2 separate regions of the Homo sapiens genome follow, and region 1 is linked to region 2. A link means that fine-mapping ties the variant in region 2 to the expression of a gene that starts in the linked region. Tissue or cell type: whole blood. Region 2 holds a variant in brackets; the other region holds the start of a gene. All regions are shown on one strand. Distances are from middle to middle.

Region 1 (8,106 bases), 60 kb before region 2:
TAGTAGAGATGGAGTTTCACCATGTTGGCCAGCCTAGTTTCGAACTCCTGACCTCAAGTGATCTGCCTACCTTGGCCTCCCAAAGTGTTATGATTACAGGTGTGAGCCACCGTGCCTGGCCTTCCCCCTAAATTTAACTTTTTGAGGAAACCAAGGCTAGAAAGGTTCTTGTCCGCTATTATGTATTTCTCTGATTGTTTCCTCATAAAGTCACTGAGTTTGTCCCAGGTAACTTCACCTTTAATATTCCAAATGAGTGAGTCAAGCCCCATCTGAGAATATTCTTACTACCTCCATCATCATCCCAGGGTCACTCTAAGAAGTCTTCAAGATGCATGTTAACATTCAGAGGACCAGTCCTGCTTCATAGTCAATTGCAGTCAGAACTTCTATGTCTCAGAAGACTAGAGACTGCGTATCTCCCACCAGAAGTTGGTGACCTCCTAATAAGCCATGGTGCTACCACAGCTAAATGCAGGTGGAACAAGGACCACTGCTAATGAATAAAAAATAAACATTTCACCATCAACTGACATGGACAGTGAAGAAATTCCATAATTAAGAAGCTCTCTTGGGCTGGGTACAGTGGCTCACACCTGTAATCCCAGCACTTTGGGATGCTGAGGTGGGAGGATCCGTTGGGTTCAGGAGTTCAAGACCAGCCTGGACAAAATAGTGAGATCCTGTGTCTACAAACAATAAACAGAAGTAGCCAGGTGTGGTGGTATGCATCTGTAGTCCTAGCTACTCGGGCGGCTGAGGTGGGAAGGTCGCTTAAGTCCAGGACGTGGAGACTGCAGTGAGCTGAGATCATGACACTGCACTCCAGCCTGGGTGACAGGGCGAGACCCTGTGTCAAAAAATAAAAATAAAAAAATAAAAAAGCTATTTTGCCTGCCAAAGGACAAAGAAGCAATTTTATTCATTTTTTATTTTTATTTTATTTTTGAGATGGACTCTTACTCTGTTGCCCAGGCTGGAGTGCAGTGGCATGATCTCGACTCACTGCAATCTCTGCTTCCAGGGTTCAAGTGATTCTCCCACCTCAGCCTCCTGAGTAGCTGGGATTACAGGTGCCCACCACCACACCCAGCTAACTTTTGTATTTTTAGTAGAGACAGGGTTTCACCAGGTTGGCCAGGCTGGTTTCAAACTCCTGACCTCAAGTGATCTACCTGCCTTGGCCTCCCAAAGTGCTGGGATTACAGGCGTGAGCCACCATGTCCGGACAAACCTTATGATATTTTATTAGGTTCTTGACAGGTACTTTTCCCAACGTAATCATGTGTTAGCATTAAGTGGAGTGGTTCTCCCTTTTCACATGCTGGAGGTTAAGCCCAGTTTCTGTCTTAAAGTACTACCTGTTAATTGAATTATTTTGCTCTAAAGGAAAGGTTTGGAGTGCTCTAAAATAATCTTCTTTGGGGCCAGGCATGGTGGCTCACACCTGTAATCTTGGCACTTTGAGAGACTGAGGTAGGCAAACTGCTTGAGCTCAGGAGTTCGAGACCAGGCTGGCCAACATGGCAAACCCCGTCTCCACAGAAAATATAAATTAGCCCAGCCTGATGGCCCTCACCTGTGGTCCTAGCTACTCAGGAGGCTGAGGTGCTGAGGTGGGAAGATCACTTGAGCCCATGGAGGTTGAAGCTGCAGTGAGTTATGATCATGCCACTGCAGTACAGCTTGAGCAACAGAGCAAGACGCTGTCTCAAAAAATAAAAAAAATCATCTTCTTTGGAACAAGTAATTTTGGTATTTTTACATAATAATCATAGAAAGCTTTTGAGGCTGGAAAAAAAGGTAAAAAATCACCTCGCGTTAGTCCAAGCCAGTTTTATTCTTATTTATTTATAGGGACAGCGTCTTGCTATGTTGTCCAGGCTGGTCTTGAACTCCTGGGCTCAAGCAATCCACCTACCTTGGCCTCCCAAAGCATTGGGATTATAGGCGTGACCCACTGTGCCTGGCCTAGGCCAATTTTAGATGCAGAGCCTATGATGTGCCTGATAGAAAGTTATTCAATACAATAAATAACACCAATACCAGTAAATATGTCATTCTTTCAAGTATATTAAAATTAACCTAATTTGGTTTCCTTTATCCTAGATGTGAATGAAGTCATCAAGGCATCAATATAGGGTTACTTGTTTTTGTTTTTTTGAGACAGAGTCTCACTCTGTCACCCAGGCTGGAATGCAGTGATGCGATCTTGGCTCACTACAACCTCTGCCTCCTGGGTTCAAGTGATTTTTGTGCCTCAGCCTCTCAAGTAGCTGGGATTACAGGCACGTGCCACCACAGCTGGCTAATTTTTGTATTTCTAGTAGAGACAGGGTTTTCCAAAGTTGGCCAGGCTGGTCTTGAACTCTTGACCTCAAGTGATTTGCCTGCCTTGGCCTGGGATTACAGGCATGAGCCACTGCACCTACCTGTTTGTTTTTTCCTAAACAAATAGTACTGTTTCATGTGTCACTACTTTTGAACACATTGCTCTCTCCTGGAATGTCTTTTTCTTTCTTCTTATCTACTTCCTGTCCAACTGACCTTCTCATGAAGTTTCTCCCTGACTCCCTGATTTGTGGTCCCTGGTTTGTGTTCACTTAGCACCTTGTATCATAATACTTTTCACCCTGTACTGGAATAATGAACCAGACTACACATTCCTTATCAGCAACCATGTCTCATTCAGCTTTTAATCCTCCAAGATGCTCCAAGTATGGCATCTGACACATAAGCAGTGAGGGCTCAGGACATATTTGATTGCTCACACCCCATGCCCTCGTTTTTCTCTCAGACATGTTTACACAAGTTCTTTTGATCGGGTTGCAACCAAAAGAAACTGATTTTAGTTTCTTTGAGCAAAACAGGCCTCTTCTAGTAAATTCACTCAACTGCCACTACTTTGGGCAAGCCACTTCATTCAGTGAGTATTAAGGGTCTATCACATGCCAGGCGCTGTTCTAAACCCAGAAGAATCCTGTTTCAAAGAGTTTATAATCTAAGGGAGAAGACAGCAATAGACAATTCACCTTTTACAGGAAATGCGCAGTCTATTTCTGGGCAGTGTGAGGTGTATCAGAATATATATAGTATTCTGGAAATCAGGGAAGAAGTTGCAGCTGACACTGTCTGGATGAACTTCAATTGCTAAAAAATCAGGGAAGAGGATGCTGGGAAGACAAGAGTAGGCGGCATTTGACCTGGATTTTGAAAGATGAGTAGGAAACTGATGTGTACTTTGGAGGCTGTTGAAGAAAACCAGAGCCAAACAGTAGTTGAAGTGGTAAAAACATTTTATTCAGGAACTAGTGCAACAGGAGCGAGACCTCAGAATAGATACAGAACTAAGCTCAATTCTCTTATTGCATTAGTTTCTTAATACCTTTTTTTTTTTTTTTAATCATTGGCCCTGGTTTTCTTTAAGTGGGGGAGGTGGTGATTCAGGACATTTCAGATACAGACAAAAGAATGAACAAAGCAAAAAGGAGTAAAGAAACTTAGAGAAAAAGTAAATAATCCAAAGAAAGTTGAGTAGTCAAGGAAAACAAATTATTTGTAGCCAGAGCCTCCAGTAATGTTGGGGAAGTGGCAAGAGATGAGGGACGGTAGGACTTTTTTAATAATTCAAGTTACCAAAAGTGAAGTTATCTGGTGATATTTAGAAAATGAAATGTTTTTCTGTTTATTCCTAGGAGCTCAAATGGGAAAGGTAAGTGAACAAGTGGCTGGAATGCTATGCCAACAAGTTTGGATTTTATCCTGCAGCGCCAACTGGGAGTTCTCCGAGAGCTGTATGGTATTTTACAAAGGGACTGTAGTCTTTATAGGTGATAGGCTGGAGCAGCTCGTAGCAGTCCCTCTCCTGGCCTCAGTTTACTCGCTGGTAACACGAATCCGGTTGGACCAGATGCCCTCTTAGGTCCCGTCTAACCTCTATGGCATGCTTCCGAGGTACCTCTGCCTCTTTCCAATACCAGGACCTGTGCCTCATCTCGTCCTTCCTTCATACCTTTGTCCAGCTGCCACCTTCCCTAGTCCCTGGCCTGCCTCAGGTACTTTCAATCAGGAAGTGAGGGGCGGGGAGGGAGGGAGGCGCGTCTCCAGTAAAAACAAACTAGTCCCAGCTCCGCCGCCTTTCCTCCCAGGCAGCACCACCTGGGTGGTGCCCCGGGGCCAGACGCGCTCTAGAGTGGGCAGGGAGCCAAGTTTCTCGGTCGCTTTTCCGTCCTAGGTCTCTGGGGTGGTAGGCCGACCCTCCCCACAGCCAAGCCATCTCGGGGAGCAGAGCAGGAGCCCGTGCCTCGCGCGTTCCTGGTTCCTCAGACACAAAAGCCTCTAAGTCCCGGCAGCAGCCACCGGATTTCATGGGGACACTCCAGTGGCAGGGCCTCGGGGCGGGCCTGAGACGGCCAATCGGCTTCTAAAGAAGTCGGGTTGTAGGGCCCGAAGAGCAGGGTTTCGGCCGGGGCCGGGGCCGGGGCGGTGCGGGATGCTCGGCTGGGTAGCGTCCCGGGCGCGCGCTGCACCGGGTCACGTGAGGCGGCCGGGGCCACGTGACCCGGCGGGCCCGGCGCCCTGGCGCTCCTCCTCTTCGCTGCCGGTGGGCACCGCCGCTCGCTCGCACTTCTGCGCCCATTGGAGCTTCGGAGATCCCTGCGGTCCCGCGGGACGGCGCGGCAGCAGCTGACCTCGCAGGTAGCGTGTGGGCGCGGGGTCGAGCTCGCGGAGGCCTCTTCCCCCTCGGCCCTGCCCCTGCTTCCCTTCCCCGCAGGCCGGGCCGGGAGTGCCCCGTTACTCCTGTACCTCCCGCCTCCCTCGCTCGGGCTCCCGGGCAGTCCCTGCGGGCGCTGCGTCCGGGGCGAGGGATGGGGTCCCCGGCCCGGCCCCGCCAGCACCTCAGCTAATGTGCTCTCCTGCGAGGAGGAGGGAAGGATGGGGAGAGGCGAGGGAAAGTTTTCCCTGCCTCCCTCTCTTTTTTGAGGTGCACGGACTCGATTTTGCTCGTAGCTGAAGTCTGACTGCTGTGGGTGCCGTTTTACTGAGAGGAGATCTCCCCTCCGACTCTTCCTATTCTCTCTCCTTTCCAAGATCTTAGCATCTCTCCTTCGTCTCCTGAGAGTAGTGCTGTCACAAACCGTATTCTTTATCGTTTCCCTTTCCGACACAGAATCCACAAAGGCAGGGATTTTGTTAGTGAGGACTTTTATCCAGGCGTGCGGTGAACTCTAAATAAGTGACGTTTCCCTTGTCTGCCTCTGATAAAGTACCTACCTGCTCGGTTTAAGATGACTATCGAGCACGCTGTGTTCTGCTCGCATAAGTGGCCTTTTGTTTTTATTTATTTGCATGTAAGACACTTTCAAGCCATCTGCGGAACTCTGCAGCTGGGGATTACAATTTTATAAAGCAGTCTTGTAATAATGCTTTTAGAAAACCAGATTCATGATCTTCCTTGCTTTTGCCCTATTCTTTTTTTGGGAGGACTAAAAGCCCTTAGAGGACAAAAACTGAGTTTCTGAAACTGGTGTGTATTGTGGGCTAATAACATTAAAACATCAAAGTATATAATGCCGGAAGGAATGGAAAAATGATTGAATCCTGAGGGCAGTTTATAGGTGCTTTAAACTTTAGAGTACTCATTTCAAGTGAGCACTGGGTGAATTTCACCCGTTTAAACTGCTTTCAGGGTCGAGGATGTAACTGTATATTTGGATTCTATTAATATAACAGTTCATCTGTGGGATGGACTTTAATCCATTTAATCCATTGTGTGAATATCAGTCTATTTATTAATACTCTAGACGGGTCCTTTTTCTTCTACCCGCTAGTCTGTTTCTCTTGAAGAGGAAGCATATTCATCTTTAAAGAGATTTTTGCAAGTGATTTTTTTAAGTGTGTGATCCAAATGATAAAGTTCTGTGAACTTCAGAAAACAAGTAGCCATAAAAACCCAAAGCTGTCAAGCTTGTAGCTTTTAAAAAATGATTTGAAAATTTTAAAGCGTGCCCGTATGCTGCAGCAAGAACTTGGCTCCACCTAATATACGGGAGCTGGGAAGTCTGAAACAGTACCCTCCTTTTCCTGGGAGTCATTGTGGGGTAGATGAAACTGTGAAGGAAAGTGAGGACCTTTATTATGATGATGATATCCCTTCTGTGTGTACTACATTAAACAGTAAGTCATGCATAGGAAAGGAGGCTGGGGCCTCACAGAGTCTAGAATCTAGGCAGGGCATTCGGACACATTTCAAAATATTCTCTGGTTTTACAAAAAGTTAAAAATGTTACATATTGGCCAGGCGCAGTGGCTTACATCTGTAATCCCAGCATTTTGGGAGATTGAGGCGACAGATTACACGAGGCCAGGAGTTCAAGACCAGCTTGGCCAACATGGTGAAACCCCGTCTCTACTAAAAATACAAAAAATTAGCTGGGCGTGGTGGTGTGCGCCTGTAGTCCCAGCTACTCAGGAGGCTGAGGTACGAGAATTACCTGACCTGGGGAGGCAGAGGTTGCAGTGAGCCGAGATTGTGCCACTGCACTCCAGCCTGGGCGACACAGTGAGACTCCATCTCAAAAAAAAAAAGTACATGTTGTGTACGTGCTGAAGAATGCACAAGAGGGGTATGATGAGTGTTGTCTGAATTTAGCCAGAATAGACTTAGTAGAGGAGATCAGTTAATGAAATAATTATATAAGTCAACTGTGTGTTAGATCACATTTAAAACACACACACACACACACACACACACATACACAAAAGCACACTTCTTTCCTGGGGTAGAAAAGCTCACAGAGGAGACCAGATGGGTACCTCTAAAGACTTACGGTCTCCAGCTTTCTCTGGGCTTGGTCTTACCATCCTGCTAGGTTTCTCTGCTCAGTGCTCTTTCCCATCCTCCCTGGTGACTGCTTCAGACTTCACCATTTTACCCCCAATTGCTCCACTCCACTTTTTTCTTTTTGAGACAGGGTCTCACTATGTCGCCCAGTCTGGAGTACAGTGTGCCATGTGATCATAGCTCACTGCAGCCTCAAACTCCCAGGCTCAAGTGATCCTCCCCACTCCCAAGTAGCTGGGACCACAGGTGCGCACCACCACATTCGACTAATTTTTTTATTTTTTGTAGAGACAGGGTCTCCCTATGTTGCCCAGGCTGGTCTTGAACACCTAGCCTCAAGCAGTCCTCCCGCCTTGGCCTCCCAAAATGTTGGGATTACAGGCGTGAGCAACCACACCCGGCCTCCACTCCACTGTTTATTGCTACCTCCCCTCTTACTCTTAGCAAAAAGCCTAACTCTTTCTTCATAGGGGAAAAATAGGTGACCTCAGAAGAGAATGGTCTCCAAATGCCAATCAAAACCATGAGATACCACCTCCCATCCACTAGGATGGGTATAATACAAAAGACAGTAAATACTGGAGAAAGCAGCACTGTTGTACATTGCCGGTGGGCATGTAAAATGGAGACTCAGCGGGGAGAGAGAATGAGAATGAGAGAATGAGTATGTCTCCAGCATCTGGATTCCTAACCTTTAAACTGGCTTTCATTCACATTCACCCTTTCCTCCTCCTCTTGTGGAAGGAAGAAAAGGAAGACTTGCTCCTTTCTACAGTTTCTCTTGCATTTATTTATTTATTTATTTATTTAGAGACAGAATTTTGCTTTTGTTGCCCAGGCTGGAGTGCAGTGGTGTGATCTTGGCTCACTGCAACCTCCGTCTCCCGAGTTCAAGCGATTCTCCTGCCTCAGGGTCCTGAGTAGCTGCGATTACAGGCACCCACCACTATGCCCAGCTAATTTTTGTATTTTTAATAGAGATGGGGTTTCACCATGTTGGCCAGGCCGGTCTCGAACTCCTGACATCAGATGATCCACCTGCCTCGGCCTCCCAAAGTGCTGGGATTACAGGCATGAGCCACTGCGCCCGGCGCTTCTGTTGCACTTCTGCTTCAGATCCCATTCCCTGCTACTTTCTTAAGGCCCATTGAGTTGTTACATCCTCTCCTCTTTGATGTTTCTACTGGCTCCTTCCCATTAATTCAAACATGTTCAAGCCTCTAACAATGTTTACATTAAAAAGGTTAACAGAAAACGTCCTG
Region 2 (8,106 bases):
TGTTTTAACATTTATTTCCCATAGTGCCAGACATTGTGCTCTCTGCTTCACATTTTACTTACTTGTCCATATTTTGTCCCATAAGGTAGGCAGCAGCATTCTCAGATTAAATAATCGGATTCAAGTTTTTCAGTAGTGACATAGCTGAAGTTCATACTCGGCTCCGCCTTATGAACCCATACTCGGGTTTGCCCAGTAGCCAGCCTCATGGCCACCAAACACATGGTGCTCCATGGTGCACAGTTACATGCTGTGTGAGTCACAGGTTAAACGTGAAAGTAAAGTGGGGGACAAAGGTTTTTTTTTTTAAATAAAGATCATGACATCAGAATGATTAGTCAGATAAACTTTGCTAAGATGGCTGGGCGTGGTGGCTCACGCCTGTAATCCCAGCACTTTGGGAGGCCGAGGCAGGCAGATCACGAGGTCAAGAGATCGAGACCATCCTGGCCAACATGGTGAAACCCCATCTCTACTAAAAATACAAAAATTAGCTGGGCATGGTGGTGCGCGCCTGTAGTCCCAGCTACTTGGGAGGCTGAGGCAGGAGAATCGCTTGAACCTAGGAGGCAGAGGTTGCAGTGAGCCGAGATCACACCACTGCACTCCAGCCTGGCAACAAAGTGAGACTCCGTCTTAAACAAAACAAAACAACAACCAAAAACTTTGCTAAGACTTAATATCAGGATAGGAAGCTGAAGCTACAGTAATCAATAATCATCTAGACTAGCGGAAATCTGTTCAGAGGGTGTTGGATGGGGTCTTCACTTCTGTAGTTTTTAAAGTGCCCCACATGATTCTGATGTGCGGCCGGATTTGAAATCCACTGGTTTAGATTTTGTCCCTAAGATATAAGAACTTAGGCTAGGGCTGCCATTACAACTGGAATGGACTGTTCTTTTTCATCTCCTGCAAATATTTTTCCAGTACTTATTTATTACATGTCAGACACCATGCTTGGAGACTCAGTTAAAACCCATTTTGAGACGCAGCATTATTGAAAATCAGAGTACCATGGTAAAAAATGAGAACTGTGAATGTTAAGTTTTCAGGGGTCAGACGTGATAGTGTGGGCATAAAAACCAGAATCGTATATTAGATTGAGAAAAATGTAACTGTCAATTTTTTTTTTCATTCTTGCATACTCCCGATAATGTTCTTATTCAGAGTCCAATTTAAAATTTAGGTGTCTGTTTTGAAGATGATGAATCTCCACGTGATAACTGTGGCTGAAAAGAGACTTTTCAAAAGCAGACTTTGTGACACGAAAACAGGCAAATTTGGTACAAGTAAAGTAGTATAATCCAAATTTATTATATCTAAGAGGCTATCATGGGCTGTAAGTAGAATCAAAGGTTAAGAACATTTTATGCACTTATTCCACAAACATTTACTGAGCATACTAGGTGCTGGGAATGTGACAGTGAGCAAAAAACACAAGAGTGTGCAAAGAGTGATCAAAATGTCAACCAGTAAGAACAGGGAAGAGCTGCTGAGGCCAAGAGGAGACGACTAGTTCTAAAGATGTGTGGATTTCACAGCCTGGTCTCTGGTTTTGAGCCTGATTGCAATTTGACATGACTCTTGGCTTAGGAAACGGTAATCCCTAATAAGACAGGGATGATATTGATGTAGAACTTGACATAAGATCTCTATTTTCTTGAAAAGAGCACAAGGTTTGTTTTAAGTCCTGAAGTAGCTCAATCTCTTCCTTCAACTGCTGCCACCTTTGTTGAGATGCATGAATTTTTTTCTCTATTGCTATGAAAAGAAGAAATAAAATTATTTCAGCTTATTCAGTAGTTTTATTAGAAATAATGTACCATTTCTAGCCCCTTTCACTTGCAGGTACAGATACACAATCCTCGTGCCTCTGGTGAAAAGGATCCAGAGCCTTATGGGCAGGAGCTGGTTTCTTTATGCCTTCACTTCCTCCTTCTAATTCAGGACAGAATTCTAACATTTATCATACACAAAGCTGTTCAGTAAACCCTTAAGATTTTGTGCACATTTATAGCAGAACAAGTCCCTTTGTATATCTTTGAGAACTTGAAAACAGTGACTGTATAACCTTCATGCTATACTATATCCATTTATTGAGAGATGATAATTGGAGAATGTGGCTAGAATACCAAGGTTAAGGACAAATCCTTCCTAAAAATGTGTCCAATTTTTAATGTTACATAAAGGCTTTTGGTTTCATTTAGAAATAGGAAGGCTTTTAATTGTGGAAACTTAGAAAAGCTTAGGAGGAAGATACTTAGGCTTTATAAATAACAAATAGTAGTCAATGGCAATGTAATTTTTAAAAGCCTCAAAATCGAACAGTTACACACATATACAAACTTTATTCAGAATAACTGCATACGTATAGTTAACTTAAAATATGAGTAAGGCTAAATTAAGCAAGTTTTTATCAACCAGGGTAGTGAAACCCAACTTAAGCCTTTTAAGTTGAATCTCATGCAGTTCTAAGTAGTGGCACCCCCGCCATACTACACTATAATATATGTACTCCCACCTAATCCATCCAAGTAGTGATGTGTGACATGTTCCCTTACATGAAAGAAAAACACACATGGAAGTCCCCTACAAAATAACTCTTTTTAGAAAAAAATTTTTAAGGCTGCTTTAAAAAAATATGGATACTGCTATATATTAGCAGACATCCTCAAAAGACTATTAAGACAGACACTCTTTTTGGTAGATTTTTCAAAGTATTTTTCCTGCTGGTTATAAATGTAGTAAAAAATTCAAATAGAAATGTATAATATAGAAGCCAAAATGAGAAAGGTTGTGTATGTTGAGACAGGGATATGAACTAATGATTTCTTCACAGGGAAATCTTATTGTCTTCCTACCATATGCTGGAGAGACAGATGCATCTGTGGAAATGCAGAGTGTGGAGGGCACTCACTCTGTTGTGCAACTTCAGGGGGAGCCATCCACCAATGCTGTTTGACTCTGTGCCCGGCCTGCCCAGCTGTGTGTGGCAGCCTTGATAGAGAAGTCAGACCAGACTCATAAACAAGTGGAGGTGTAGCCTGTCTTGAGGGCATCTTAATGCTGAAAGGAGGACTCACTCAATAAATGGTTGATATTTAATAGGAAGGTTAAATCTCCCTCCTCCAAACCAAACGAGATTTTCTACTGCAAACATTTCTTGGCTATTCTTACTTGCTCATTTTTTGTTTGTTTGTTTTTGTTTTTTTTTTTTCTGATGAACTTTAAATCAGTCGTAACCCTCCCTGATAAGAAATTAAATTAGATTTGAGGATTAATAGTGGGAGAATTAAAATTTTGACCTATCTCACCAAGCGAGAGGGAGGCAAGCGGAGGGATGGTTTATCATAGCCTCGCCACCCAAGAGCAGAGAAGCCGCAGGAAGCTTTACCAGCTCCTGCCTGGGCCACACACAGGCCAAAATATGCTCCAATTTTTGAATCAATTTTTTGTTGTCTCTACTTTTTTAATGAGTTTTTCTCATTATAAAAGTATTTGTGTGTATATAGAAAATCTGGAAAATATAGCAGTAAAAGAACAGACAAAAATCACTATATTCCAACTACCTACAACCAACTACTGTCTCCACCAGGTGCAGCTTTTGTCTGTGCACATGTACCTCGATATTTTTTTCCTGTGTGTGTGGGCAGGTGGGCGGGGTCATACTGTTTTTGTAATTGGCTTTTCTCATTTAAGAAAACAATGAACATTCTTCTAAAATATTTTTATCACCTGTACAGTATATTGTTTCAATATCGTGATAAATATTTCTCAAAACTATGCTGCTCAGATGTTATATAACTCATATACCTGCTTGAAAATTTACAAATGTGTCTTCGAACAATCTACAGTCAAAAAGTGCACTCCCGATTTCTTCATAGTCTGGAGGGAGAGAAACATTTTCAATATTAAACAGTTTGTATAGGCAGAAACTCCTCCATTTATATATGTAATCCAAAACAGGGGAAAGGAAAGAGAGCAGTCATGTGCCATGGAACTTTAATGTTAGATGGCAACAGCAGCAGCAGCACTACAGGGAAGCTGTCAGAAATGTAATTCTTGGCATTTCTCTTTTTTCTTTTTTTTTTTTTTTTTTTTTTGAGACAGAATCTCACCCTGTTGCCCAGACTGGAGTGCAGTGGTGCGATCTTGGCTCACTGCAACCTCTGCCTCCTGGGTTCAAGCGATTCTCATGTCTCAGCCTCCCAAGTAGTTGGGATTGCAGGCGCGCACCGCCACGCCCGGCTAATTTTTGTATTTTTAGTAGAGACAGGGTTTTGCCATGTTGGCCAGGCTGGTCTCGAACTGCTGACC[A/T]CAGATGATCCACTCACCTCGGGCTCCCAAAGTGCTGGGATTACAGGCGTGAGCCACCGCGCCTGGCCCCCAATTCTTGGTATTTGTACTGAATCAGAATCTCTGTGGGATAGGCCCAGCTATCTGTGTCCTCACCAGCCCTACAGGTGGTTCTCAGGCACACTGTTTGGGAAGTGCTTGGTCTAGAGGAAATAAATGAATAAAATAGTATAATAAATGAGCTTTTGGAAATGCTTACTATTTATTTCACTTTTTGGTTTTGCCCTATAGAAAATAATCCCATTCAAATAAACATTTTTTATATTGTTGCCTACAATATAAGCTGTCCAGCTTGTCCTTGTAAAATAACTATATTTATAATAAAGGTTTTAAACTCATGGGATATAAGTTATAAGAAAGCTAAGTAAGGCTGGGCACAGTGACTCACACCTGTAATCCCCGCACTTTGGGAGGCCAAGGCGGGCAGATCACATGAGATCAGGAGTTCAAGACCAGCCTGGCCAACATGGTGAAACTCCATCTCTACTAAAAATACAAAAATTAGCCGAGTGTGTTGGCACATGTCTGTAATCTTAGCTACTCTGGAGACTAAGGCAAGAGAATCACTTAAACCCTGGAGGCAGAGGTTGCAATGAGCTGAGATCATGCCACTGCACTTCAGCCTGGGAGAGAGAGCGAGACTCTGCCTCAAAAACAAACAAACAAAAAGCTAAGTAGCTATATACCTGCACATACAAATGGAACTTTGACTTCCCAAAGAGCCCTTAAGAAAGAAACTTCTTTAACAAAGTACATCTTTAAACCAAACATCAGTCAAAACATTAAAATTCCTTCTTCTATACTTTAAAGTTTGAGTTAACCTTATTTAAAAAAGGACACTTGGCTTATTAAGGAATAGAATTGGATTCCAAAATCAAAACTGTAACATAACACTGTTCTCAGATCTTAGCAACAGGAATGCAGGGCGGTGGCAGGGGAGCATATGTGACCGAATCAATCTCTGAATGGCACATTCTCTTAGTGGCCAACCTGTTAGACACCTCTGGAAAATGTACCACAACTCTCAGGGCATGAGGTTACTTTTGACTAAATTACTGAGTTTGTAAATTACCCACATCCTGTTGATTTATGAAGGATAGTAGATCTGGTCCAATTATTTTATTAAAGAATGAGGTAAAGGGCCAGGCATGGTGGCTCATGCCTGTAATCCAAGCACTTTGGGAGGCCGAGGTGGACGGATCACCTGAGGTCAGGAGTTCAAGACCAGCCTGGCCAACATGGTGAAACCTTGTCTCTACTAAAAATACAGAAAATTAGCCAGGCGTAGTGGCGTGTGCCTGAAATCCCAGCTACTCAGGAGGCTGAGACAGGAAAATCGCTTGAACTTGGGAGGCAGAGGCTGCAGTGAGGCAAGATCGCACCACTGCACTCTAGCCTGGGCAACAAGGGCGAAACTCCGTCTTAAAAAAAAAAAAAAGAATGAGGTAAAGGTAAAGAATGACAAGCTGGACAGCTTATATTGTAGGCAACAATATAAAAAATGTTTATTTGAATGGGATTATTTTCTATAGGGCAAAACCAAAAAGTGAAATAAATAGTAAGCATTTCCAAAAGCTGATAGAAGAAAAAAGTAGTATAGGAAGAAAATGGGCCTTTTTTTTTTTCTTGGGTTTGTTTTGTTTTAAATCTAGATCTGGGAGAAGTCTCTATACTTCGAAATATTGCTCTTCATCAGTACCTGATTCTGAAGTAGTCTCATCCATGAGTTTTTCTGGAATTGAATGAACTTTGTCTAATATTTCTTCAAGTAAGTAATTAAGAAGTCCTGCTTCCTTGCATTTCTTAAGAAAAGGAACTTTCACAGTTGCATCTAAGAATAAGACAAACATTTGAGAAGGAAATAGTCTTAGGGCAGCTAATCATAAATTACTTTATGCTTATTTCTTCAGACCTTGCCTAGTGGTGGATGCACATACTTAGTAAAATAATACAGCACCTTCACCCTTTTTATTAATTATAATTTCATCATACCTCATTTTTTTTGGCCAGCTGAAACAATGAATAAAATGTTACAAAAAGTAAAAATGAAAATTTCTCTGCTTACAATAACTATATGAATTAAGAGGCTTTTTTAAACATATAAAACTGTAACTTTTTAAATTTCAATACCTTTTGGGGAACAGGTGGTTTCAGGTTACATGGATAAGTTCTTCAGTGGTGATTTCTGAGATGTTGGTGCACCTGTCACCTGAGCAGTGTACACTGTACCCGATATGTAGTTGAATTAAGAGGATTTTTAAAAATTACCCTTAAGTCTTTGACATAACAGCCCCTGTCACTTCTTGTCACAGTTTGTATGTGTTGTTAGTGGAATGTCTATTTCTTTAAAGAACAGAGAACTACAGTTACAGGGGTCACAGTGTGAGGGGTGACACATTGCTGGATTCTGAGCTCAGGCAAGCCTGTCTGTGTCTTTATTAATAGAAGTCTATCTTTTCTTAATACTGAATGCAATGGACCATTCCAACCTAAGTTATCTTGATATGCTGGGATTACAATAGAGTGGACAGTTGCGATAAAGATTTATACTCATTAATTACCACAAGCCTAGAAGAATAAAGATTTAGGCGGGATACCAAGTTTGAAACAGGTGGGTTGACATTTTTATAAGTATTGTAGGCCATATTTGTTACAGACAACACTTAGCGCAAACCTGTGTGTCTGCCATGCTCTTCTTTCACTTGTCTTATGAATGTATTACATTTCATTGTTTCGGGTGGCTAGGAGAGAAAATCAAGATTGCATTACATTGATTTTAATATTGCATAAAATGAAAACCAGTCTTTTGCTGTGCATAACTAAATGATATGCCTACAGTAAAAATCATGCCCTGGCTGGGCGCGGTGTCTCACGCCTGTAATCTCAGCACTTTGGGAGGGCAAGATGGGCAGATCACAAGGTCAGGAGTTCGAGACCAGCCTGGACAACAGGGTGAAACCTTGTTGCTACTAAAAATACAAAAATTAGCCAGGCGTGGTGGTGCATGCCTGTAATCCCAGCTACTCAGGAGGCTGGGGCAGGAGAATCACTTGAATCCAGGAGGCAGAGGTTGCAGTGAGCTTAGATCACACCATTGCACTCCATCCTGGGTGACAGAGAGAGACTCTGTCTCAAAAAAAAAAAAAAACAAAAAAACCCCATATTCATATTTAGATGTAAACATCAAATATATTTTTGTTTTGTATTATAAAACATTAAGAGGTGTTTGACAAGCACCCCTTGTATAAACAGGAGGAGGTGAAGGTTGCTGGCGCATATGAATTTAGCTTATATGTGCTGATGTGTAAAAACTCAAATCCCCAAAATATTTTCATACATTTTATACATAATCCAGAAATTTATAAGAGCTACAGATTTGGTCAGGTGTGGGTCATGCAGCTGGGAAATACTTGGCTCCATAAGGATGTTTGACTGCACCCTCTGCCCGTTTTAACTGTAAGCACCTGTGGGGTCAGATGCTCTCACTAGTTTGGTGCCAGGGAATTTATAGGAGCTCGGAGAATGTCACCTCCTGAAGGTTATGTGCTTGGAACTTCCAGCTTCATTTTCATGCTCATCTCATCATGATTCTATCATCTAGGAATTATCTAAGAGCTTCCCGACTATGGGATTCTTCCTAAAAAGGCAACCTCAGGAGCAGCCTTAGCTGAGAACACAAATGAAGAATGTTCTTCAAAGGCTCTCTGTTTGGACGATTTGGAAAGTACCTTTCACCTGACATTCAGACTG

What was found. PIP is the estimated chance that this variant, and not a neighbour inherited with it, causes the effect.
Region 1: it holds the start of RCBTB1, and the variant in region 2 is fine-mapped to the expression of RCBTB1 in whole blood (INTERVAL, PIP above 0.99). The same link has a PIP of 0.9 or more in monocytes.

The regions. Positions count from the first base shown.
Region 1 is chr13:49,582,036-49,590,141 of GRCh38, reverse strand. RCBTB1 (RCC1 and BTB domain containing protein 1) reads left to right here and starts at 4,584. Exons shown (of 13, transcript NM_018191.4): 1 at 4,584-4,698. RefSeq lists a silencer at 4,351-5,060.
Region 2 is chr13:49,522,166-49,530,271 of GRCh38, reverse strand. SETDB2-PHF11 (SETDB2-PHF11 readthrough) reads right to left here. Exons shown (of 21, transcript NR_135324.2): 17 at 7,031-7,097; 18 at 6,056-6,187; 19 at 4,335-4,499; 20 at 3,814-3,885; 21 at 1,296-1,761. PHF11 (PHD finger protein 11) reads right to left here. Exons shown (of 10, transcript NM_001040443.3): 7 at 7,031-7,097; 8 at 6,056-6,187; 9 at 3,814-3,885; 10 at 1,296-1,761. The coding sequence ends at 1,607. Among named protein-coding and RNA genes, the nearest start is that of PHF11, 30 kb to the right of the region's middle. The variant A/T (reference allele first, on the strand shown) is at 4,318.